Linked DNA regions of Homo sapiens: all the other regions are linked to region 2. Evidence: fine-mapped expression QTL. A gene starts in region 2. Each other region holds a variant in brackets. All regions are shown on one strand. Distances are between the middles of the regions.

Region 1 (5,997 bases), 86 kb before region 2:
CCCATGGATAAAGAGAATCCACTTGGAACTGAATATAGCATGCCTTTTGTTCTTTTCATCATTGGTAGGTGTAAGTGTTTAAAATTACATTCTCCTCATCAGATGCATTAAGAATCCATGCCTTCAAGGGACTGTGGTGTTGTGACAAATTAAAACAGAATTCCTTCCCGGACAGTTCATAAATCTAAAATGGAAATCATCATGGCTAAATCTATGAAGCACCCACAGAAAAAGCCCTCCAAACAAACAGAGAAATTACATTATAAACAAAAATTAATTCAGCTCACATTGTTGTTTGCTGGTTTTCTTTTATGGAAAGAAGATACCTTCCACTCCCAAAATTAGCTACTTAAGCAATGGCCAAAATATAACTATCAGTTTTAAGCTTTTAAAGCCAAAGAGTATATTGAGAGGGGATTATTTATACCATTTGAGGATTCTGAGGGGTTTTTTTAAATTTTACATTTTTTTTATTTTTTGTAGAGATGAGGTTTGTCATGTTGCCCAGGCTGGTCTTGAACTCCTGAGGTCAAGCGATCCACCCATCTCAGTCTCCCAAAGTGCTGGGATCACAGGGATGAGCCAACTGTGTCAGCCTGGATTCTGAGCATTTTAAAAACACCACCACACACAGTGCTCTAGCCAACAGGGATCTTTGATTAGTGTAAAGGTTTCCCATGCATTCCTGGGTGAGCACTATGAGGTTTGGTGGTACCTGTAAATAGTGTTTTGAAGGTCTTTTAACAGACAATTCCTGAACACCTACAGGCTGCTAGATCCCATACTAGGAGCCGAGGAATAAACAGACATAAATGAGCTCAGCCTTGCCCTCAAGGGGCTCAAAGTCTAATGACAGAAGACAAACTTGAAAATTACCACTATAAATTATTGTAGATATAGTCAGACTTATTTTAGTCCAAACTCCCCTTCTCGTACTTTAAGTCTCTTATTCTAAGAGCATCTCATCCCTTTAAAACAGAAGCATGTCAGGTACACTAAATGCTACCAAGGAAAATATGTATAGTTGCAGGGCAATGTAATTTGATGGAAGTTTAAGATTGGTTTTCATTTTTCTTTAAGAGAAAAATCACATACCTGTACCAACCACATATAAAAGAGAGAATGTGTAAAACATATCATGAATTTTAAGTCTTACCTGGAACTAATTTTAAACACCACACAGACTCTGAATAAAAGAGATGTGTCAGGCACATTGGCCCCTTGGAATGGATGGGGCAATAAAAATGTGTTCAGTACCAATACAGTGTTCAGTATGACACTTACACAAGAGCTCCTACGAAAACATTTTAGAAGCTTCATCATCAGCGTTAAGTTTTGCTAAGTGAGTTGACCACCCAGAGCTAACATGGATCAACTTAAGTAGCTCTAAATATTTTTGTTTCAGAAGTCAAACTGTTTCTAAGTATCCAACACCTTTCCCATCAGTCAACTAAAAAGAAAAATAAAGAAGTTTGATAGGAACCTTGCAAAGCTCAAGTTTCCCAAAGACAATTAATCAGAAGGTTAATGCATTCAGAATGCCAGAGGCTTCCCTGTATTCATGAAAAGCCATGTATGAGAAGTAATCATCTAAGGCAGCAGTCCTTAAACTTCAAAAATCTAACGAACACTAAGGATACTTTCTGCAGAAAACACAAATGCTATCCCTAAAATCCACAGCTTAGGGTTAAGAAGCCCTGCTCTACAACTAAGAAGCAAGGAGGGAAGGCTCTTTCTGGTTAACCTCTTACAATAAGGCACAGCTCTCTGATTCTGCAACTAAAATAATGCCTGGCAGAAAGTAAAGAACTCAACAATTATCTGGTGAATGAATGAATGAATGATGAGTATGTTATTTGCACTATGATTTATTTATTTAAAATAATTTTTTTTGAGACAGTCTCACACTGTCGCCCAGGCTGGAGTGCAGTGGCGTGATCTTGGCTCACTGCAACCTCTGCCTCCTGGGTTCAAGCGATTCTTATGCCTCGGCCACCTGAGTAGCTGGAACTACAGGCATGTGCCACCAAGCCTGGCTAATTTTTGTATTTTTAGTAGAGACGGGGTTTCACCATGTTGGCCAGGCTAGTCTCCAACTCCTGACCTCAAGTGATCCGCCCGCCTCAGACTCCAAAGTGCTAGGATTACAGCAAGAGCCACCACGCCCAGCCTGCACTACAATTTAGTCATGACAAATTGTTTCAAATTTAAGGAAAATATCTGACTTACTTGACTGACATATCCTAATTACTTTTCTTTTACCTTTTCTTCTGAAATAATTATAGACTCACAAGAAATTGCCAAAATAGTACAGAGATTGGTACACTCCTCACTCAGCTTCTCCCAACAGTAACATCTTACATAACCTGCACTGCATTATCAAAAGCAGAAAACTGACTGGCATGAAGCACAATTAACTAGACAACGGACCTGACTTGGATTTCACCATTTTTCGCATGTACTCATCTAACTACCTTTTTTGTTTGTTTTTGAGACAGGGTTTTGCTCTGTTGCCTAGGCTGGAGTGCAGTGGTATTATCACAGCTCACGACAGCCTCAACCTCCTGGGCTCAAGCAATCCTCCCACCTCAGCCTCCCG[G/A]GTGGCCAGGACAACAGGCGTGCGCCAACAGGCCTGGCTAATTTCTTTTTTGTATAATTACCTTTTCATATAAGCAAATAAAAATATAAACTCTCACATTCTCACCCCCCACAAAAAAAAGTTTACCAGAATTAAAATACTGTGGCAGTCAAAAATGGAACAGATTTTCATCAGCTCAAAGCATAAAAAGACAAAGGTGTCAGCTATCTTAAAACTGTTCTAGCTCCAGCTTCACTCATATTGTGTCTACCCACCACGACTTTGATTTGAAAGCTATTTCTAAGACATCAGGCACAAATATAAAGGCAACAATTCATCAAAGAGAAGCATCATATGATTAAAATAATTTTGCTTTCAGAGAACAGACTCAACACCATATTCATCTGATTAAGGTAAGTTTCTACACTGTTAAGAATCTGTTCACTCAATAGTGTCTCTGCTGAAGGGAACTACTTGTAGTTTTGAGAGGAAAATGGCCAGGTCTCTTGAATAGCTATCAAGCAAGGCAGAAGTGTGGTAATGTGGAAAGTGCGTGAGTACGAGAGTCATAAATTTGGGGTTTATGTAATATCCTTTGATTTCTAATTGCATATCCTTGAACAGCTCACTTAACTTCTCTGAACTTCAACTATAGGAATAACTGGAGAGGTTTGCTGTTCTGCTTTTTAAATATGGATTTTGTGAGCTCAGAATCAATAACATGGATGAAGGGGCTTCACAAAACTGCAAAGTGCTTTGTGTATACAAGTTGTTCCTGCATTCTCACAGCCCCCTGCTGTGCCTGCCACCCACAGAATGACAAGCCACCCACAAATCACAACCCACACAGGCTCCTCTGGCCTGAAGAGGCTGCAGAGGAAAGACCTGGCACCTTCCTCCTCTTCTTGCAACCAAAATACTTCATTCCCCACAGAGAAAGAACTTACCACTGTCTCATTTCCATCTGCGATAGAGTATGATTAATTAATTTCATCAACTATCATCACAACATTTCAAAATAACAAAATGATACTAAGCCCCACGGCATCCATGATGATGGACTTTTAAAATGTCTATTGATTTAGTAAGCTTACAGAATCAGCAGCAGCTTCGGCATATTGCCCTTGTCATTCTTGATCAATTAAATAGGCTGGGATTAAATCTCTTTTGTATGCTTTACAAAGCCGTCTACAACAAGGGCCCTTATCACAGATCCACTTCATAGGTCTCTTGACACCAGCCACCTAGCATTGTGTCCCCAGTGCCCATATTCCCCAGCAAAATCATGCCATTTATTGCCTCCGTGCTTTTTGTGACTGGCAGTGTCCCTACCCCACCTTCATCTGGCTACTTCTTTTTCTTTCTTTCTTTCTTTTTTTTTTTTTTTTTTGAGACAGAATCTCACTCTGTTGCCCAGGCTGGAGTGCAGTGGCGCAATCTCAGCTCACTGCAAGCTCCGCCTCCCAGGTTCACGCCATTCTCCTGCCTCAGCCTCTCGAATAGCTGGGACTACAGGTACCCGCCACCGCACCTGGCTAATTTTTTTGTATTTTTAGTAGAGACGGGGTTTCACCATGTTAGCCAGGATGGTCTCGATCTCCTGACCTCATGATCCGCCTGCCTCAGCCTCCTGAAAGTGCTGGGATTACCAGTGTGAGCCTCCACGCCCGGCCCCCATGCTACTTCTTTAATCAGCTAAGATAGGACATCCTCAAAGAGGAGGTGCCCCCAGGTGCTACCATCAAAACCTATGCATCTGTAGGTAATGCTCCACACTGTTTGGGAATTATTTCCTCTTCTTTATTTCCCTTTTCCAATTCACTCAACTTTGGATCTCTGGAAATTAGCATCACGCCTGACACTCTTAAGTGCTCAAGTAATAAATGCATCCATTCACTGAACACAAGCTATGGTGTTAATGCTGTCAACAGAAAGATGATTCAGTCAGTCTCCCTCTTACAAGTCTCTGACCTTATTGCTATGAACATTATTTCTAAATATACTATCATCGGACAAAACCAACCAAAAAAACAAAAACAAAAGTATTTACCCAGATTAGCCTTGAAACAAGTGAGAGGTCAAACTACTTCATCTGGTTCATAAACAAAAAAAGCAAACAAAGAATATTATAGCAATGTAATTTTCAATTTAGCACAACACACCTTAAAACTGTGCGTGTTTTTATGAAGTTGAGTTGGAAGTGAGATGGAATATGATCAGGATTAAAATTGTGATGGTTTGATTTTTTTCTTCAGCATACAAAAGCTTGGGGAATTCTAGAAAAACAAGTTGTGGTACATGGAACAAAAGCAAGAACAAAAGCTGTGGCCAATGCCTCATACATGCAAGGACCGCCAGGAGTCATAATCGGAGTGGGGTTTCTTGTCAGCTTCCTTCCTTCCCATGAGGCTTTGAAGTTAAATGCTTCTGTTTCAGAAGGACAACTACTCCAAGGAATTATATTCAAGAGACCAAATGGGTGCTTTGTAATGTCTTCAAATTCATACCTCCTAAGAAACAGAATCAAAAGTTTCATGACTGAGACTCCAAAGATAAGTGACAGAAGGAGGGAGCAGGATGCCTCTTTTGGACCTTAGAGGTCCTCCTACGAGACACTGTGGCATTCCCATGCACCCCAACAGAAGGGCTGAGCTCCCCCAAGTCCTAGGATGCTAACCTTCAACCCTGTCAGCTTCGCTCACTGTCTAGCTGCAGGACCAAGCGGAACTGCGCAGCAGGGAACACTCTTCTGCAACAGTGAGCCCCAACAAAAGAATTCTAGACCAAGAAAACACTTTCTCAAAGGACATATTTTAGCTCGCGAGAGGATAAATCTTACTAAATGAAGGCTTTAGTCTGTTTGAAAGGCACTAACATGTCTGCCTGTCAGAAAATCATGAAAATTACTTTGAATGACATGTTTCTCATACTGAGTAATTTCTGAGATAAAGGAAGTCAGTTTCCAACGAGATAGCCTCAAGATTCTAAATCTTAGCACCAATAATCCAAACACAAAAGCTGTAATTCATACATGAAGCAGAATTTTAACAGTTGGCCTTGGAAGAAATTAGGTCATTTTCAAGTTCTCTATGTCCAAGTCAGTTGAAACAGATAAAAAATGGAGTTGAAAATTTTAAAATGAGTTTCAACTCAATGTGAACTCAATAATTCCTGCTTTCTCTATAAAATAGGCATCATTATAATACAGTAGGATCTGTAGCACAAAAATCCTTTCTTGAGCCTATTAAGTTTGATAAAACTTGTTATCCATACTGAAAATTTTATTTCTACTTTGTCCAGTTAACTTCCCATAAAGAAAATTCCTGATCAATGACTACTAACTACGAACTGCAGTTACTTGTAATGAAAATAATTTGGCAAAAAACAAAGCAGAGCGGCCTCCTTCAACTGCCACTACA
Region 2 (5,997 bases):
TGTAATCCCAGCTACTCAGGAGGATGAGGCAGGGAATTGCTTGAACCCGGGAGGCAGAGGTTGCAGTGAGCTGAGATCACGCCACTGCACTCCATCCTGGGCGACAGAGTAAGGCTCCATCTCAAAAAAATTAAAATAAAAATAAAAAAATAGAAACAGACTATTTGATCGAGTGTCTATTGATTTCTGCTTAGCAAAGTCTGTTTTGATATTTACAGAGCCAAGATGTAACTATTCACATTGCTGGCTGTTGTCACTATTTTCCATGAGAACTTACTGTGTCAGCAAAATTAATGAAGTCTGACTTTTACAGACAGGAGCAGAGATTGGTGGTTAAGCACTAAACATTAAAGGCAGAAAGTTTACATTTTTATTTTTGTAAAGTAATTGTCTCGATCACTTACATTGGTAGCAGTATTGTATTTTTAGTATTGTATTTTTGTACTTGTACTTAGTATTGTATTTAGTACTGTATTTTTAGTAGGGACGGGGTTTCAACATATTGGCCAGGCTAGTCTTGAGCTCCTGGCCTCAACTGATCCACCTGCCTCAAAAGATCCATCCTCCTTCCTCCCTAAGGTTTTTATAGTTATTCTTCCTGACAGTAAGCACTAAGTCACTAAGTATTAATTCAATTCAAACATCTATTGAGCTATCACATCCAGGCATTGTTCTAAGCTCTAGAAAAACAAAGACTCGGCCATCCTGGACCTCAAAGGTCCTGCTGTCTGGCAGAGGGGTGCAGAAGTCCCCTTGGTAAATGTGGTGATCGAGGTGAACCAATGCCATGGGAACAGCCCCTCAACCTGGGGGTGTCAGGGAAAGAAAGTAGGAGTCTTCAATGAACAGAATAATAACATGCATTCTCCCCAAGGCATGACAAAAAATTATTTTGGATAACTTTCTACCCATGAGATTTTGAGGAATGGCAAACTTGATGAAATACCTCTCAGGATCATTGAGGCCAGCAGGGCCAGCCCACAGGACTAAAATACTGTCTCTGTATTGCAAAGAGTGTTTATACATTTTTTTAAATTGTTCCACTGACATTCTCACATCCTTTCTTATGGTAGAAAGCTATTATTGGTCACTGAAATATGCTGTCCCCAACTGCTAGAGGCTTTTGGTAAACTGCTGGATTCTGTTAATTGCTCCTGGGGAGACTCATTAAATGGTTTATCTGACAAGAAGGGTGGAATTAACGGTCACAGTTATCCTTAGGACTGTTTAAGGAACATATCTAAACTTTGCTCCCCATTTCCACACCTTTTTTTTTTTTGAGACAGTCTCGCTAATTTTTGTATTTTTGGTAGAGACGGGGTTTCGCCATGTTGGCCAGGCTGATCTTGAACTCCTAGCCTCAAATGATCCGCCCACCTTGGTCTCCCAAAGTGCTGGGATTACAGGCATGAGCCACTGTGCCTGGCTCCACACTCTTCTAAAGGGAAGGAACACAGGCAGTGGGACGACAGGCGAGACAATCAGAAGGTTTGGGCTTCAGGCCCGGATGTGTCATTACCCACAGCCTAACCTGGGGTGAATTAACTGCAATGCTGTTGGACTGGATTTCCTCTCTGGGTAAGAATTCACGAAATGGATGGCCTTTACGGTCAATTCCAAGTCTAAAAGTCTAGCCATCCATACTAATGGAGTATGATATTCTGAAGACCTGCCTAAAATGGCAGAACAACTTCAAACTGTAGTTTTTACACAGAAACAAGGTTTGAGGCATTGTTTTAAAAGAATCCTAACAGATGGTAATGCATAGGCATTTCACTGCTTTTAAGCACATAAAAAAGCAAAGTGTGTGAAGGTGAAAGAAACCACAAAAATTAATGTCTTGATAGTCAGCTTTCTTCTCTACATGTACATTTATACTCAGGCATAATTATATTCAATAAAAAGCCTTCTTGCATGATTATTAAAAAAAAAAAAATGGGGCCACGTGTGGTAGCTCACACCTGTAATCCCAGCACTTTGGGAGGTCGAGGCAGGTGGATCGCCTGAGGTTGGGAGTTAAAGACCAGCCTGACAAACATGGCGAAACCCTGTCTCTACTAAAAATACAAAAATTAGCCGGGCGTGGTGGCGGGCGCCTGTAATCCCAGGTACTCTAGAGGCTGAGGCAGGAGGATTGCTTGAACCCAGGAGGCGGAGGGTGCAGTGAGCTGAGATTGCACCACAGCACTCCAGCCTGGAAGACAGGTATGAAATCACAACCACTTAAGATTCAAACAAACTTGTGAAAAGTTTTGAAAAGAGTTATTTCAGTTACTGTAATTAGAACAACCTTAGTTAATATGGAGAATTTGGGGGATTTCTGGCTATGGACAGTAGCCTATTGGGGCATATGTACTAAAGAACAGAGAAAAGTGATACATTTAAATGTAAAACCAAACTAGTAAAGGAAGGAGTTCTTGACCTTCAGGGAGTTTCCTCTTGTTTTTTAATTCCCACAATAGATCAGTTCACCTATCAATCAGATCTCCCTCATCACATTCTTTGTCAAGGGTAAAATTCTGGTTCTCCCACGTACCTACACCCTAGACAGAAAACGCATAGAAGCAACTCGTGATTGCCGCATAGACCATGACATCCTACTAGGACAGTGTATCCTACCATATGCATGAAGTCATCACTCACATTAAGTAGATATATTCTGATTATGTCAACAACCTTATGAGATCACTTTGATTCCTCCCCACTGATTTTTTTTTCTTGGAGGGGGACGCTCTCCCAGGTTGGGAACTGTCCACAATTCATATGAATGTGTTGACGGCACAATCAAAGAGATGAACGCAAAAATGTAAAACTGCCACGAATTAATTATACAACTTGGAGAAAGATGTATTATAGCAAGCAATCTCACTGAAATTAAATAATTGAAAATTTTGAACTCTTAGGCTGTAAGGTAGTTAAAATATAGCTAAGTTTTTCTAGCTAGCTGGAAAACGAGCTATTCGAGATTGCATATGAAGTGATTCTAGGAGAAAAAACTATTTCATCCAGAGCTGCTGAAATCTAGGCGTGTGTTACATCAACATCTCCCCTCCCACCCAGCAATCCATCAACCATCTCCAATTTATTCTTTACACTTAGGATTATGACCAAGTTCACGTACTTAAAAGGGAGAAACCACAGAGACATCACACTGAAAGTTTCTCTGCTTTGGGCCAGCAGGAAATTCCAGTTGCTTCATTCACCGGAGCCAGTTAAGCTGCTGAAATGAAATGGATCACCGGAGAGATCACTATATCAGGACATAGACTTGACTTTCAGGGTTGGAGGAAGCCGGACAAAGATGAATGGGATTCAGAGCCTGAACTCAAGGTCAACGTCTTCTGAATCACAAAGAGCTGGTGGGTCAGTCTGGGAGAAGAAAGAAAATTCTGCGCCAAATGGGAAAACCCTTAAAGTCTGCATAGTTTTGCTTGTCGGTAAGAACACAGGTAGGCGGCGGGAAGAGAGGTGGCAAGCAGCCCCAACGCTCGCCGAGATCCCCAGGGTTTTACAAACGGATCGTCCTGAAGTCTCCAAAACTGTAACTACTATATGCCCAAATTTATATTCTCCCCTGGCTTTTCCAACAGGCTACCTGCCTGTGACAGTTTTCCCACGAACTTGGCTCTCCTCTGTCTACAGCGCCCCGGGGTCTCCCAAACAGACAGACACAGACAGACAGAAGGAGCAGACAAGGGGACTGTCCAATTCCCACCCTCCGCGCCCACTCTCTCGAGGTAGCCAAGACCCTCCAGGAGTCCGAAAGTCACAGAGCGCTCTGCGCCCCTGCCACCTGCCCAGCCTCCCGCTGGGGTCCGGCAGTCCCCACTGGAGACCCCGACATCGCGGGGCTCCGCGGCCCCCGCGCCGACCCAGGGCCGCCAGGGGGCGGGCGGGAGCAGCTCTCCGGGTGCCTCCCCCGCCGGTTCCCCTCCCCCGGCCCGCCGGCCACTCACGGATTTTCACTCGGCGGTGGTCCAGGCGCGCAGCGGCGGCTTGCAGGGCGTCGAGGCGGCGGTGCAGCGCGGCGGTGCGGTGGCCCAGCGCGGCCGCCTGGCCCTCGAGCTCGCCGAAGATGTCCCCGGCGCAGCGCGACAGGTCGGCCAGCTGCGCCAGCAGGCAGCCCAGGGCATGCGAGCTGACCTGCTCCAGCGAGCGGAAGAGTGGCGCGCCCGCAGCCCCGGCCCCCGCCGCCTCGGGCCGGCGCAGCCGCGCGGGCTCCAGGGTCCTCTGGTGGAAGGGCATGGCGGGGGCGGGCCGGCGGCGCGGGATCCCTCAGTCTGCCTCCCGTCGGCGCGGGGCGCCAGCCTGCATCCAACACAAAGGAAGTCCCGGGCAGCGGCGGGGCGCCGAGGGAAGCCTGGCGGCCCCTGCCCGCAGGGGAGAGGCCGGGCGGGCAGGAAGGACGGACGGACGGACGGGCGCGCGGGCGAGCGGGCACCCGGGCGGCGCGGGGCAGGAATGGGGTCCGAGCCGTGGCTGCCTGGCGCCCGGCGGCGTTCCTCCACCCGCAGGGCTTCGCGGGCCGCGCGGCGAGAGGAAGTTCCAGGGGCAGCTCTGGGCGGCGGCGGCCGCGGCGGCGAGGGGAGCCGCGAGTCCCGCTGAAGTTTGCAGGCGGGCAGGAAAGCGCCGGCTGCTCCTTCCCTCCCTCCGGATTGGAGAGGGAGGAGGAAGCGAGGGAAGTGCCGCCGACACCGGGCGAGAGGGAGGGGAGGCGAAAGAAAGGAAAGGGGGAGGAGAAAAGGGCCGGCCCGGGAACCACCTGCGGCTCCCGCGGCTGCCGCGCCCAGCGCCCGCAGCCAGTGGCGGCCCCGGCGCCTCAGCGCACCCTGTCGGGGCGGGTGCGGGCGCACAGTCCCGGGACGCCCACGTCGCCGCCCCAACTCCCCTTGGCAGCCCCCGGGCGGTGGGGCAGAGCCCTCGCCCGCCCCCCGGGCCGGGGTGCAGCGCAGTGCGGGCGCCGGGAGGGCGGAGGCGCCAGGACGGCCGCGGCCAGCTCCGCTCGCTCTGCTCACCTGCGCCCCTGCCCACGGCGCTCCGCAGTCAGGAGCGCCCCGCCCCGCGGGGAACGCCCCGGGCCCCTCGGGGTCCCCCTGCTCTCTCCTACTTCCCTTCTGGAAGGTGGCCAACACTTCTGGGCCGCCCGGGTGGACCTCAAATAGAACGTCTTTAAATGTCCGGTGGCCAAGGGTTCTGTAGCCGACTAGGAGTCAGCGTCCGACTCGGAACAACTCAAGACCTCTTTTCAGGGGGCGTCCAGTGAGTTTTTTTCAGCAAGGTGACTCCCCCTGTGGCTGCCTGCTACTACAGCTGGAAAGGTCCAAGCTGAAATGTGACTAATCTGAGTTTCTTCCACCAAGCATGTTAGTTAGGGGTGGAGGACTAGAACCTAGAACCCTGAATTCGAGCCTGGAAGATATGTAAGCCACATGCTATTGAGATCGTGGTCATGGGACACCCGCTAACACAAACCTTCTGGTAGGAAGTTTTTGAGAAGACTGGGTCCAATATCCCCAAGCTAAAATCCCACTGGCCCATCGCTGTGTTTGCTCAGAAAAGGAATCTGGGTTCTTTGGTTTCTGCTTTCCAGTTGACCCTGGTTGCTCCTCTGTTTTACGGCATTTTGGGAGTCGGTCTCCCAGAGCAGCGCTGATTGTAATGAGAAGCGCGTTCCCTCTCTGGGGGACAGGAGCAGTGGGAGAAAAATGGGCCTGGGAAAGAGCTCCTCCAAATAAAACTTATTAGACAGATACGGGTTATGGTGTTGGTGGTGGTGGTGGTGGTGTTTTGGTCTTTATCCTGTTGTACAGCGCCTCATTTTTTACAATGTGGGCCAGTAACTATTTCGTATCACCTACTCTGACCACCTTCAGGGTTGTTATGAGGCTCAAAGGAACGGCTGCTGTGAAAAAACATGCTTTGCAATTTATGAAGCACTGGATAAACATCAGGAACGGTATAAAAGCATGCTGCTTACTCAAGAAATACTAGTTGAGT
Region 3 (5,997 bases), 93 kb before region 2:
AGCATGGTGGTGTTTCTGGGTCTCTTCCTCTCCAACACTGCCCTTCTTCCCAACCCCAAGAGAAAAAAAGGCCATAAACCCTACTTGGAAGCTAAAACCAAAAAATATCCAGGATGAAAGTATGTTTTCCTTTGCAGGTCTTATGCAAAGGAAAAGGCATAGAAAGGTAATGGTCTGAATGCCTTCCAGTAGTCAATGGTCGATCCAAGGAATGCAAAGGGGCAGAGGAGGCAGAATCTACCTCTGCCTGGCAATGGAGTAAACCTAGACACGCTGCTGAAACCCACTGGACATCAGGACTGAACAACGAAGAGGTTAAATTACCTCCCCAGGGCTCTCCCAGCATTCCATCCAGGGTTCCCATCCACCAGCACTGACGCTACTTGGCAGTTTTGAATAAACAATACAACATCTCAACTATTGTTAAACTACAATGGGAGGCCTCCAGCGTCATGTGGAAATTATTTTTAAAATGAAAGCTTTTTCATCAACTGCATGAAAAAGCACTTAATAAATCCAGAAACAGTCTAAAAGGATTATGTGGACAAGTCAAAATGTGATTTTGATGGACTAAGTGGATTGCTGAGACACATCATGACATTTAAAACCAAGTGCAGAAACTGAACTGTATTTCATTTGTTAAAACGCTTAAGATTATAAAGGAGTGATACATTTGGCAAGGTAGCCAAGGTTCTTGAAAGAATCAGCAGCGCCGCAAAAGGACATCGAGGAGCTCAATGCAGCTAATTTAAGCAGACCTGCTCCTGAGAGGTGAACCAAGCTTGGTAAGTTTTTTAAGTTCACGTCCGTTTCTCACCCACATTCAATTGGCGGGGGTGGGGGGGAAGTTCTGAAAGCTTCCATGAGATAATCCTTTAAAATAGTCTCTAGAGGCAGCGGCAGCAGCAAATTATTCATTCCTACCTTGCGTGAGTTAAGCGTGACAGAAAAACTCTCTCAAGCAGAGTTTGAAGTGCTCAGGGTTCCCGCCTTGCAATCAGAAGTTAAGACCTACCAGGAGATTGAGATCAGCCTGGCCCACGTGGCAAAACCCTGTCTCTACCAAAAAATATAAGAAATTAGCCAGGTGTGGTGGCGGATGTCTGTAATCCCAGATACTCAGGAGGCTGAGGCAGGAGAATCGCTTGAACCTGGGAGGCAGAGGCTGCAGTGAGCCAAGATCACATCACGGCACTCCAGCCTGGGCGACAGAGTGAGATTCTGTCTCAAAAAGAAAAACAAAAAGTTAAGACCTGCAAACAGCGAATAGAATACAAAAGCCTAATTCAGTGCTGGCATATGAAGCATCAATCCATAAAAATGGCTGGTTAGTTTCCGAAGTTTTGATCTGGTGTCATATAGCCTAAAGAACAAAGAATTTACAGGAAATGATTTTAGGAGCCTGGAAATTTTAATTCCATCTCAGATACTGTTATTTCCTTTTAATAGTAAAATCTACGTAACTATTGATTTGACAAGTTTTTCATTTGGCTGCCTGTGCTATTAATCATCACGGAACTTTAGTCCAAAATTCAAATCAAACATCACCATACACGCCTCACTTCCAGGTCCCGGGTACATGTTGTTCGTTTCTGGTTATTCTAGTGTAGACTCCTTGCTTACTTTGGAATTTTGGCAGGAATTGTTCACCATTTCTGAAAAATCATATCACTGACCACCTAACCGCTTGTAGTGTTTGAGTCACTAGCTTTTCATCATGGTAATTCCACACACATGTAAGCATCCAACGGTTTCATTCCATCTTCCAGTAAGTACAGTTTTGTGTGAGCAATGAATATGAAAAGGTAAAAATGGCCTTCTTTAATTTCTCCTTACATTGCAGGTAGGACATTATATTGACTTTTTAAGCATGCATGAATAGATGTATTATATTGGCTATGTGATACTCATTTCAGGGTAGAAAAAAGATAATAAAAATATTTCTTATGACTGAGAAGCACTGACCTACAGGTTATGCCAGCACTTCCCCAGTGACGATGATAATGTCATCAGTGACCTTGATGATGATTTCCAGCAGAGAAGGCGGTGCAGGTGAAACTGTCCCCCACCTTAAAAATCAGCTTTTGGCAGGGCACAGTGGCTCATGCTTATAATCCCAGCACTCTCGGAGGCCGAGGCAGGAGGATCATAGGAGCCAGGAGTTCAGGACCAGCTCAGGCAACATCTCTACAAATAATTGTAGAGATACCCCATCTCTACAAATAATAATTTTTTAAAAAATTAGGCCAGGCGTGGTGGCTCACGCCTGTAATCCCAACAATTTGGGAGGCCGAGGTAGATGGATCACTTGAGGCCAAGAGTTCAAGACCCGTCAGGCCAACATGGTGAAACCCTGTCTCTACAAAAATACAAAAATTGGCCGGGCATGGTGGTGGTCACCTGTAGTCCCAACTACTTGGAAGGCTAAGGCAGGAGAATCGCTTGAGCCTGGGAGGCGGCAGTTGCAGTGAGTCAAGATTGCGCCACTGCACTCCAGCCTGGGTGGCAGAGCAAGACTCCATCTTGGAAAAAAAAAAAAATAGCCAGATGTGGTGGTGCACACCTGTAGCCCCAGCTACTCTGGAGGCTGAGGTCAGAAGATGGCTTGAGCCCAGAAGTTTGAGGCTGCAGTGAGCCATGAACATGCCACTGCACTCTAGCAGCCTGGACAACAAAGCAAGACTTCATCTGGAAGAAAAAAAAAAAAAAAAAAAAGCAGCATTTTTCTTTCTTCTAAGAACTACTAAAAATATATGTGAACATAGACCCTTTCTCCACAATGCTCATAGATTTGGATTTGCTGACCAGACTAAAACAACGTCCAGCGTTTCCTCATCTCTTTGTGGTAGGGTGGGTGAAGCTAAACAATCCCACTAATACTGAATGCTGCCTTCATTCAAAGACGACTGCATCCTCACACTCTTAAGTACAATAATGAAAATGAAATTAAAGTAAATGGACTTACATGTATTTCTCTTTAATTCAGGTTCACCCATATGTTTCTAAACATTAGACTGCAAAAAGTGCAAGAGTCCAAGGTCAGAGCTTAGGGCCTGGAGATCCATCAGATTCCCTGTTTAATCATCAGCAAGTCACCTACTCTCTGTGTGTCCAAGTCATCTAGCTGTAAAATTTGGATCCTATTTGTCTGTTACCTCTTGACCCAGGCACAGAGTATAACCTAAGAAAACATTCTGAGCTACCTAATTGTTTTGGATTCTATTACATATTTTTTTCAAAACAAATTCTACATAATTTAGTGTTTTATGGTAACCAGTACAATATAAAAAAATGTAAGGCCAGGCGCAGTGGCTCATGCCTGTAATCCCAGCACTTTGGGAGGCCAAGGTGGGTGGATCACCTGAGGTCAAGAGTTCGAGACCAGCCTGGCCAATATGGTGAAAGCCCATCTCTACTAAAAGTACAGAAATTAGCTGGGTGTGGTGGCAGGTGCCTGTAATTCCAGCTACTTGGGAGGCTGAGGCAGGAGAATCACCTGAATGCAGGAGACTGAGGCTGCAGTGAGCCGAGACTGCACCATTGCACTCCAGCCTGGGGAACACAGCAAGTCTCCGTCTCAAAAAAAAACAGAAAGATTTAGAACTCTTTAAGGTCTTTTTCTCCTTATATAACA[T/C]ATGCAGAAATAATGGTGCTATTGAAATTAGAATGGACCAAGTGTATAACCCAGATACACAAGAAACTTCCAGTTTCTCATTCAGTGCTTGAGATACCTTAAGATGATCAAATCACAAATGCTCAGTTAAGTCCAATCAGATCTCAAGGCAAGATCTCAGGCAGGGTCAGCTTAGTACCTATAGAAGGCATCAGAAAGTAACTTTCCAATGTCACCTAAATGCCTTCCCTGTTGGTGCTGAGAGATTTCAGGATACAAGGAAGAATGAAGTACCTTTAAAATGAAGCAGGCCGGGCATGGTGGCTCATGACATGACTGTAATCCCAGCACTTTGAGAGGCCGAGGCGGGTGGATCACCTGAGGTCAGGAGTTCGAGACCAGCCTGGCCAACATGGTGAAACCCCATCTCTACTAAAAAAATACAAAAACTAGCTGGGCATGTTGGCATGCATCTGTAGCTCCAGCTACTAGGGAGGCTGAGGCAGAAGAATTGCTTGAATCCAGGAGGCAGAGGTTGCAGTGAACCAAGATTGCACCACTGCACGCCAGCCTGGGCAACAGAGCAAGACTCCATCTCAAAAAAAAAATATTAATTAATTAATTAAAATGAAGCAACACAGAGGTATTTTAAGGTCCACTCAGTGCTTTCTTTTCTGTTCTTTTATTTTCTTTTTCTTTTCTTTTCGAGACCAGTTCTCACTCTATTGCCCAGGCTGGAGTGCAGTAGCACAATGATGGCTCATGGCAGCCTTGAACTCCTGACCTCAAGGGATCCTCCTGCCTTAGCCTCCTAAGTAGTTGGGACTATAGGCATGAGCCTGGCAACCTTCCTTCAATTTGAACTAGCAATGCCTACTGCAAAAATTTAAGTGTTTATCAGCACTGTAAAGGGTCATTAAACTTTAGGTTACTGAGTGAAAAAACCAAAGAACATTCTTTCCAAATGCTTTTAAACTTTTATTTTACCTTTTACTTTGTAACCAAAAGAGAACATTGCTCAAAAAAATCAATTATAATCCTTGCTTCCCTGGGTTTAAGCCATTTGTTTTTCATGAAATTACTATCAATTTAAATGAAAAATAATATTAATACCTTTTAAATTCAGAGCTATACTTAAAATTTTCTTAATGTCGTTGCTAAACCAACACTTAGATCTTACTATCCCTATTAGAGCTTATAGTCTGGCAATTATAGGGATCAAACACTTTAATTTGTGAGAGAAGAAACTCATGTTTTAAAATAACCCTAACCTCCAATATTTCAACATGTTCTTTAGAAAATTCATCCCACAAAAATGGCCACTTCATTCTGTAACATGATATATCTACAAAAATCACTGTGTGTCAGAATACAATAACCACTTGGAAAGGGCTGCCTGCATTTCTAAATCATGTGTAAATCATTTGAAAGTATTTTCTCATAATGATTATGAAAGCATTAAATTCAATAGAAAACAAAGGATTCCATTCAAATGTATGTCCCTTCATTTACTTTTTAAGGTACTAAATGTATAAAATAGAATCTGGATTAACTGGAAAGAAATGAACATAAAATCTGGTTCCACTATAAATCTGAATCACTTATCCCAGAACTTTCTTCTAAAGTAAAACTCACCAGGATTGTTGGGAATCTTTTGATTATACTCCCTGGCCTGACTTTATTTAAATAACTCTTTAATTCTGACATAGCAACCATATTCATTGTTATTTTTTAAATCTGTTATGTTCTCCAGTCCCAAGCTAAACCAACACTTAGATCATTCAGGAAATGTAAAACACTGCTGGCAATCTGTTAGAAAACCCTTTAACCTTTTGTTACACATTCAGCACCATCCCTAGACACTTGTGTGGCTATTGCTCAATTGCACCTGTTATGCAGAAAACTCATACAAGAGGAGTACTATTTTAAAAAATTTACTCTTAGGTGAATCTAAAATGATTAATACTGATTATAAGAGTTTTTCTTGCCCGGGCACGGTGGCTCATGCCTGCAATCCCAGCACTCTCGGAGGCCGAGGCGGGCGGATCACAAGGTCAAGAGATCAAGACCATCCTGGCCAACATGGTGAAACCCTGTCTCTACTAAAAAAGCAAAAGTTGGCTGGGTGTAGTGGCACGCACATGTAGTCCCAGCTACTCGGGAGGCTGAGGCAGAAGAATCGCTTGAACCCGGGAGGTGGAGGTTGCAGTGAACCGAGATCACGCCACTGGATTCCAGCCTGGCGACAGAGCGAGACTCCATCTCAAAAAAGAAAAAAAAAGTTTTTCTTAAATCCAGCAACAGTATCACAAAAACTCAAGAATTTATTTAATAACAAAAACAAAAAACTAAGGCTAAAGAATAAGAAAATGTACACACTTTAA
Region 4 (5,997 bases), 23 kb after region 2:
AGATGGGATTTTGGTGTAGCTGAGCTTTTTGTTGATGTTGATGCTATTCCTTTCTGTTTGTTAGTTTTCCTTCTAACAGTCATGTCTCTCAGCTGCAGGTCTGTTGGAGTTTGCTGGAGTTCCACTCCAGACCCTGTTTGCCTGGGTATCACCAGTGGAGTCTGCAGAATAGCAAATATTACAGAACAGCAAATATTGCTGCCTGATCCTTCCTCTGGAAGCTTCGTCCCAGAGGGGCAGCCACTTATATGAGGTGTCTGTCGGCCCCTACTGGGAGATGTCTCCCAGTTAGGCTACACAGGGGTTGGGGACCCACTTGAGGAGGCAGTCTGTCCATTCTCAGAGCTCAAACGCCATGCAAAGAGAACCACTGCTCTCTTCAGAGCTGTCAGACAGGGACGTTTAAGTCTGCAGAAGTTGTCTATTGCCTTTTGTTTAGCTATGCCCTGCCCACAGAGGTGCAGTCTAGAGGCAGTAGGCCTTGTTGAGCTGCGGTGGGCACCCAGTTCAAGCTTCCTGGCTGCTTTGTTTACCTACTCAAGCCTCAGCAATGGCCAACACCCCTCCCCCAGCCAGGCTGCCACCTCGCAGATCGATCTCAGACTGCTGCGCTAGCAGTGAGCAAGGCTCCATGGGTGTGGGACCCACCAAGCCAGGCACAGGAGAGAATCACCTTGTCTGCCATTTGTGAAGACCTTGGGAAAAGCACAGTATTTGGGCGTGAGTGCCCCATTTTTCCAGGTAGTCTGTCATGGCTTCCCTTGACTAGGAAAGGGAAATCCCCTGACCCTTTGTGCTTCCCGGGTGAGGCAAGGCCCTGCCCTGCTTGAACTTGCCCTCCATGGGCTGCACCCACTGTCCAACCAGTCCCAATGAGATGAACCATGTACCTCAGTTGGAAATGTAGAAATCACCCGTCTTCTGCATCAATCATGCTGGGAACTGCAGACCAGAGCTGTTCCTATTCAGCCATCTTCAAAATTTCCCCTACTTTTCTCTTTTTTTTTAGAGACGGAGTCTCACTATTTTGGCCAGGTGGGTCTTGAACTCTTGGCCTCAAGCAATTCTCCCACCTCAGTGTGCTAGGATTACAGGTGTGAACCACCATGCCTGACTTTTTTCTTTTCTTTTTGTTTGTTTTTTTGGTGTTTTTTTTTTGGCATGTGTGACAAGGTCTTGCCATGTCACTCAGGCTGGAGTGCAGTGGCTCAAACACAGCTCACTGCAGCCTCCACTTCCTGGGCTCAAGCAATCCTCTCACATCAGCCTATCAAGTAGCTGGGACTACAGGCCTGTGCCACCACATCTGGCTAATTTTTGTATTTTTTGTAGAGATGGAGTTTTGCCATATTGCCTAGGCTGGTCTCCAACTCCTGAGCTCAAGTGATCTGCCTGCCTCGGCCTCTCAAAGTGCTGGGATTACAAGCGTGAGCCACTACACTTAGCCTGGTATTCTTTTTACTTGAAGAGGGACTCCAAAATTTCATACGTTTCAGGATACCTAAAACCTAGATTTATGCCTCATCTCAATGAAAAGCAATTCAGCGTGTATTTTGTCCAAAGTAAGATTGTAACTACAGCAAGCCAGCTCTCATCTATAAAATACCATTTTAATTGCTTACAACTGAAGAAAAATATGCATCTATTTGGTTCATCAAGCAATTCTCCTACTTCAGCCTCCCAAGTAGCTGGGACTACAGGTGCGCACCACCATGTCTGGCTAATTTTTTGCATTTTTAAATAGAGACAGGGTTTTGCCATGTTGCCCAGGCTGGTCTAAAACTCTTGAGCTCAAAGGGTCTGCCTGCCTCAGCCTCCCAAAGTGCTGGGATTATAGGTGTGAGCCACTATGCCCAGCCAGGATTTTTATTTTTTATTTTTATTTTTTTGAGATGGAGTCTCACCCTGTTGCCCAGGCTGGAATGCAGTGGCACAATCTCAGCTCACTGCAACCTCCGCCGCCCAGGTTCAAGCAATTCTCCTGTCTCAGCCTCCTGAGTAGTGATGACTACAGGTACCTGCCACCATGCCCAGCTAATTTTTGTATTTTTAGTAGAGACAGTGTTTCACCATGTTGGTCAGGCTGGTCTCGAACTCCTGACCTCAGGTGATCTGCCCGCCTCGACTTCCCAAAGTGCTGAGATTACAGGCATGAGCCACCATGCCCCAGCCAGGATTTTTAAATATTCAAATAAGCCCCATTGTAATTTCAATAATTATCTTTTAACTGGTATTAATAATTTATCCATAATTCACATTGCCTTGTAAACTAGGGGAACTTGGCTATAATTCAAATATACAACTGATCTGGTAATAGATATGATCGGACTTGTAAAAATTTGTGCCTCTAAAGATTTGAGAACAAGTATACTTTCAGAACAAAGTATACTTTAAAAATAACCAATGTAGTAAGAACATAAAAAGTTACATGTCCATTATGACCTGTTGGTAAGGACATTAAAGTTTTATCAAACTAGAACATTTATGAAATATGAGAATCTTTCATCAAAGAACAGTCTTTCTGTAGTTTAAATGCAGCAATTATAATCCCAACCATGCTTGCTAATCTTAGCTACCGGGAAGTTAGAAAGAGAGAAAGGTAATTCATAAGACAGCTTGGTACCCAAAACCACCTAGGTTTTTGTGGTCTATAGTCAACACCTCAAATTATATCGAGAAACAAACAGGCAGCCAAAGGGAAATGTAGACTACAATTCTAGCAACCTATAATTTTATTCCTTGTAGTTTGTGCCTCTCCACTGCAAAGTGGCTCTAGTCTGCCTGGTCCACAGCTTCCAGTTGGCCTCTTAGAGTGTGTTGCAGACATCCAGCCAAAAGCTCACTATGACCATCTAGAATAGTGCTCCCAGAAGCTGTCATGGAGTTTTACCCATAATGGGTGCTCACCCCTAAATATCTGTTAGTAATGATACCATGACAATTATGGCAAGCGAAGACTGACTCTGGATGATCTGGCTCACAATCCCACCCAGATCAACTTGCACAGTCACTTATACATGAGTCATGGTCCTGATTCTATTGTTGAAATAAAAGGTTTGGTGAAGTGCTTTTACACCTTGAGAGTGAAGAGATTAAGTCAAGGCCAAGTGTCTCAAACTTGAGGGTAAGAATGGAGAGTAGAAAGCTGACCATAACAGAAAGGGCCCATATTTTTGAGTTATGACACTGATTTCCTGCCTTAAAAATGACTGACATTTTCAAGGCACCTACCATTTACTGGGGATTATGCCAAGGGCTTTTTATGCCTCATCTCATTTTATATCTACAAACAGGCAATTTTATTAGTACTGTTATTTTGCAGGTAAGGAAACAGATTCAGAGGGGAAGCATAGCAGCAAACGGCTAGTACCTGAGGGAAAGACCCTAGATTTAAACGTAGCCTGCTGGCCTCAAGAACTTGGACTCAAGAGCTGGGAAACATCATGCCAATGTTTCCCAAAGTTTGAAACAGAATCTCTGGCAGTCTGTGACAGGATTTTATTTGGTGCACAGATGCTTCATTAAATTTTGAGAAAGTTATTTTCTTTGAAGTTCTTTCAATTTTTCTTTTAAATCTA[A/G]GTTTCCATTTCAGGTCATCTCTTTGCTCATGCATATGAGTATATACTGTTAGAAGCAACCAGGCCACATCTTGAATGCTTTGCTGCTTAGAAATTTCTTCTGCCAGATACTCTAAGTCATCTCTCTCAAGTTCAAAGTTCCAAAGATCCCTAGAGCTGCCAGTCTCTTTGCTAAAGCATAGCAAGAGCAACCTTTACTGCAGCTCCCAGTAAGTTCTACATCTCTGTATGAGACCACCTCAGCCTGGACTTCACTGTCTATATTACTATCAGCATTTGTTCACAACAATTTAACAAGTCTCTAGGAAGTTCCAAACTTCCCCTCATCTTCCTGTCTTCTTCTGAGCTCTCCAAATTGTTCCAACCTCTGCCCATTACCCAGTTGCAACGATGCTTCCACATTTTCAGGTATCTTTATAGCAATGCCCCACTTCCCGGTACCAATTTTCTGTATCAGTTCATTCTCTTATCGCTATAAAGAACTACCTGAGACTGGATAATTTATGAAGAAAAGAGGTTTAATTGACTCACAATTCTGCAGGCTGTACGGGAAGCACGGCTGGGGAGGCCTCAGGAAACTTACAATCATGGTGGAAGGTGAAGGGGAAGCAGGCACATCTTCACATGACAGAGCTTGTGAAGAAAGAGGGAAGGGGGAAATGCTACATACTTTTAAACAAGCAGATCTCGTGAGAACTCACTATCATGAGAACAGCAAGGGGGAAGTCCACCCCCATGATCCAATTACCTCCCACCAGGCCCCTCCTCCAACACTAGGGATTACAATTCAACATGAGATTTGGGCGGGGACACAGACCCAAACCATATCAAGACCTGAATGGCCAAAACAACTTTGAAAAAGCAAAACAAAGTTGGAGAGCTAACTCTACCTGATTTCAATGCTTCCTATAAAGATATAGTGTTCAAGACAGTGTGAGATAGAAGTAAAGGTAGACAAATAAATCAGTGAAACAGAAAAGAGAGTGGAGAAACATGCCCACACATAAATGGAAAACTGATTTTCAACAAAGGTGCAAAGGCAATTCAGTGGAGAAGGGATCATCTTTTCAAAAAATGGTGCTGGAATAATAAAACATCCATATGCAATAATAATAACCTTTTATCCATGCCATGTGCCATATACAAAAATTAGCCCCAAATTGATCATTGACCTAAATGTAAAACCTAAAGCTAAAAAACTTCTAGATGCTAACATAGGAGAAAATCTTTGTGGCCATGGGTTAGGCAGTGATTTCTTAGATACAACACCAAAATGATGATCCATTTTTTAAAAACTAATATATTGGACTTAATCAAAATTTAAAAATGCTCTTTGATGGATACTGTTAAGAGAAATAGAAGACAGACCATAGATTGGGAGAAAATACTTGCAAAGCACATATCTAATAAAGGACTTGTATTAGAATACAAAGAACTCTTAAAATAAAGAAGTTGCCCTGCAGTAAAAGAGTGAAATTGAGAAGCAAAATGAGTCCTGGCAGCATTGCCTAAATGTTGCTAGACTGGGGCTAGATGTAGCTAGACTGGGGCTTTCCCACAGTTTGATTACATGAGCCCATGAATTACCCTTTCTGTCTGGTTCACGTAAGGTTTCTATTACTTGTCACCAAAAATACATCCTCATTTAGAGGAATGGAAGTATGAGAGAGAGGATCCAAAAGATGGAACATAAAAATGATTTTTCTATAAGAGTAACTGTTGAGAAACAAAAGATTTAGTGTGATCACAAGGAACTGGTGGCTAACTTGATCATACACTTGGCTATGAGTTTAGTTTGTTTTGTTTGTTTGTTTGCTTGTTTGTTTGTTTTTGAGACAGACTCTCTATCACCCAGGCTGGAGTGCAGTGGCATGATCTTAGCTCACTGTAACCTCCACCTCCCAGGTTCAAGTGATTCTCCTGCCTCAGTCTCCTGAGTAGCTTGGATTACAGGCATGTGTCACCCACACCCGGCTAACTTTTGTTTTTTCAGTAGAGACGGGGTTTTGCCATGTTGACCAGGCTGGTCTCAAACTCCTGACCTCAAGTGATCCACCCACCTCGGCCTCCCAGAGTGCTGGGATTACAGGCATGAGCCACTGCGCCCGGCCAGGTTCATTTTTTTACTGAGTATGTATTATATTTTTAAAAAATAATTTCAACTTTTATTTTAGATTTGGGGGTACATGTGCAGGTCTGCCACATGGAAACGCTGTATGACGCTAAGGTTTGGGGTATGGATGATCCCATTACCCAGGCAGTGAGCACAACACCCAACAGGCAGTCCCTCAGCCCTCAGCCCCCTCCCTTCCTCCTCCCTAAAATTTTTAAAGCACACATATTTCAATCCAAAAAAAATTAACTGCTGGATATTTACCCTAGATAAACCTGTGCACCAAGAGAAATGTGTAAAGATATT

Alleles and levels. Alleles are on the strand shown, and positions count from the first base shown. SD is a standard deviation of normalised expression in the study named. Not every link is listed here.
With allele G in place of A in region 1, the expression in monocytes of the gene that starts at base 3,149 in region 2 is higher (large effect, 0.77 SD a copy in Schmiedel 2018).

Evidence for each region. PIP is the estimated chance that this variant, and not a neighbour inherited with it, causes the effect.
Region 1: its variant is the best candidate, but not a certain one, in a credible set for the expression of NHSL1-AS1 in monocytes (Schmiedel 2018, PIP 0.82).
Region 3: its variant is the best candidate, but not a certain one, in a credible set for the expression of NHSL1-AS1 in blood mononuclear cells (TOPMed, PIP 0.74).
Region 4: its variant is the best candidate, but not a certain one, in a credible set for the expression of NHSL1-AS1 in whole blood (TOPMed, PIP 0.75).

Annotation. Positions count from the first base shown.
Region 1 is chr6:138,602,753-138,608,749 of GRCh38, forward strand. It overlaps a transcript of NHSL1 not described here. Among named protein-coding and RNA genes, the nearest start is that of NHSL1-AS1, 86 kb to the right of the region's middle. The variant G/A (reference allele first, on the strand shown) is at 2,600.
Region 2 is chr6:138,688,520-138,694,516 of GRCh38, forward strand. It overlaps NHSL1-AS1 (NHSL1 antisense RNA 1), which reads left to right and starts at 3,149. Exons shown (of 4, transcript NR_033896.1): 1 at 3,149-3,449; 2 at 5,874-5,997. LOC124900217 (collagen alpha-1(III) chain) reads left to right here and starts at 4,207. Exons shown (of 2, transcript XM_047419637.1): 1 at 4,207-5,997. The coding sequence starts at 4,244. The coding sequence ends at 5,173. It also overlaps a transcript of NHSL1 not described here. RefSeq lists an enhancer at 2,544-3,743 and silencers at 3,866-3,915, 3,926-4,275, 4,756-4,815, 4,856-4,995.
Region 3 is chr6:138,595,933-138,601,929 of GRCh38, forward strand. It overlaps a transcript of NHSL1 not described here. Among named protein-coding and RNA genes, the nearest start is that of NHSL1-AS1, 93 kb to the right of the region's middle. The variant T/C (reference allele first, on the strand shown) is at 3,635.
Region 4 is chr6:138,711,075-138,717,071 of GRCh38, forward strand. No RefSeq gene overlaps it. Among named protein-coding and RNA genes, the nearest start is that of NHSL1-AS1, 22 kb to the left of the region's middle. The variant A/G (reference allele first, on the strand shown) is at 3,579.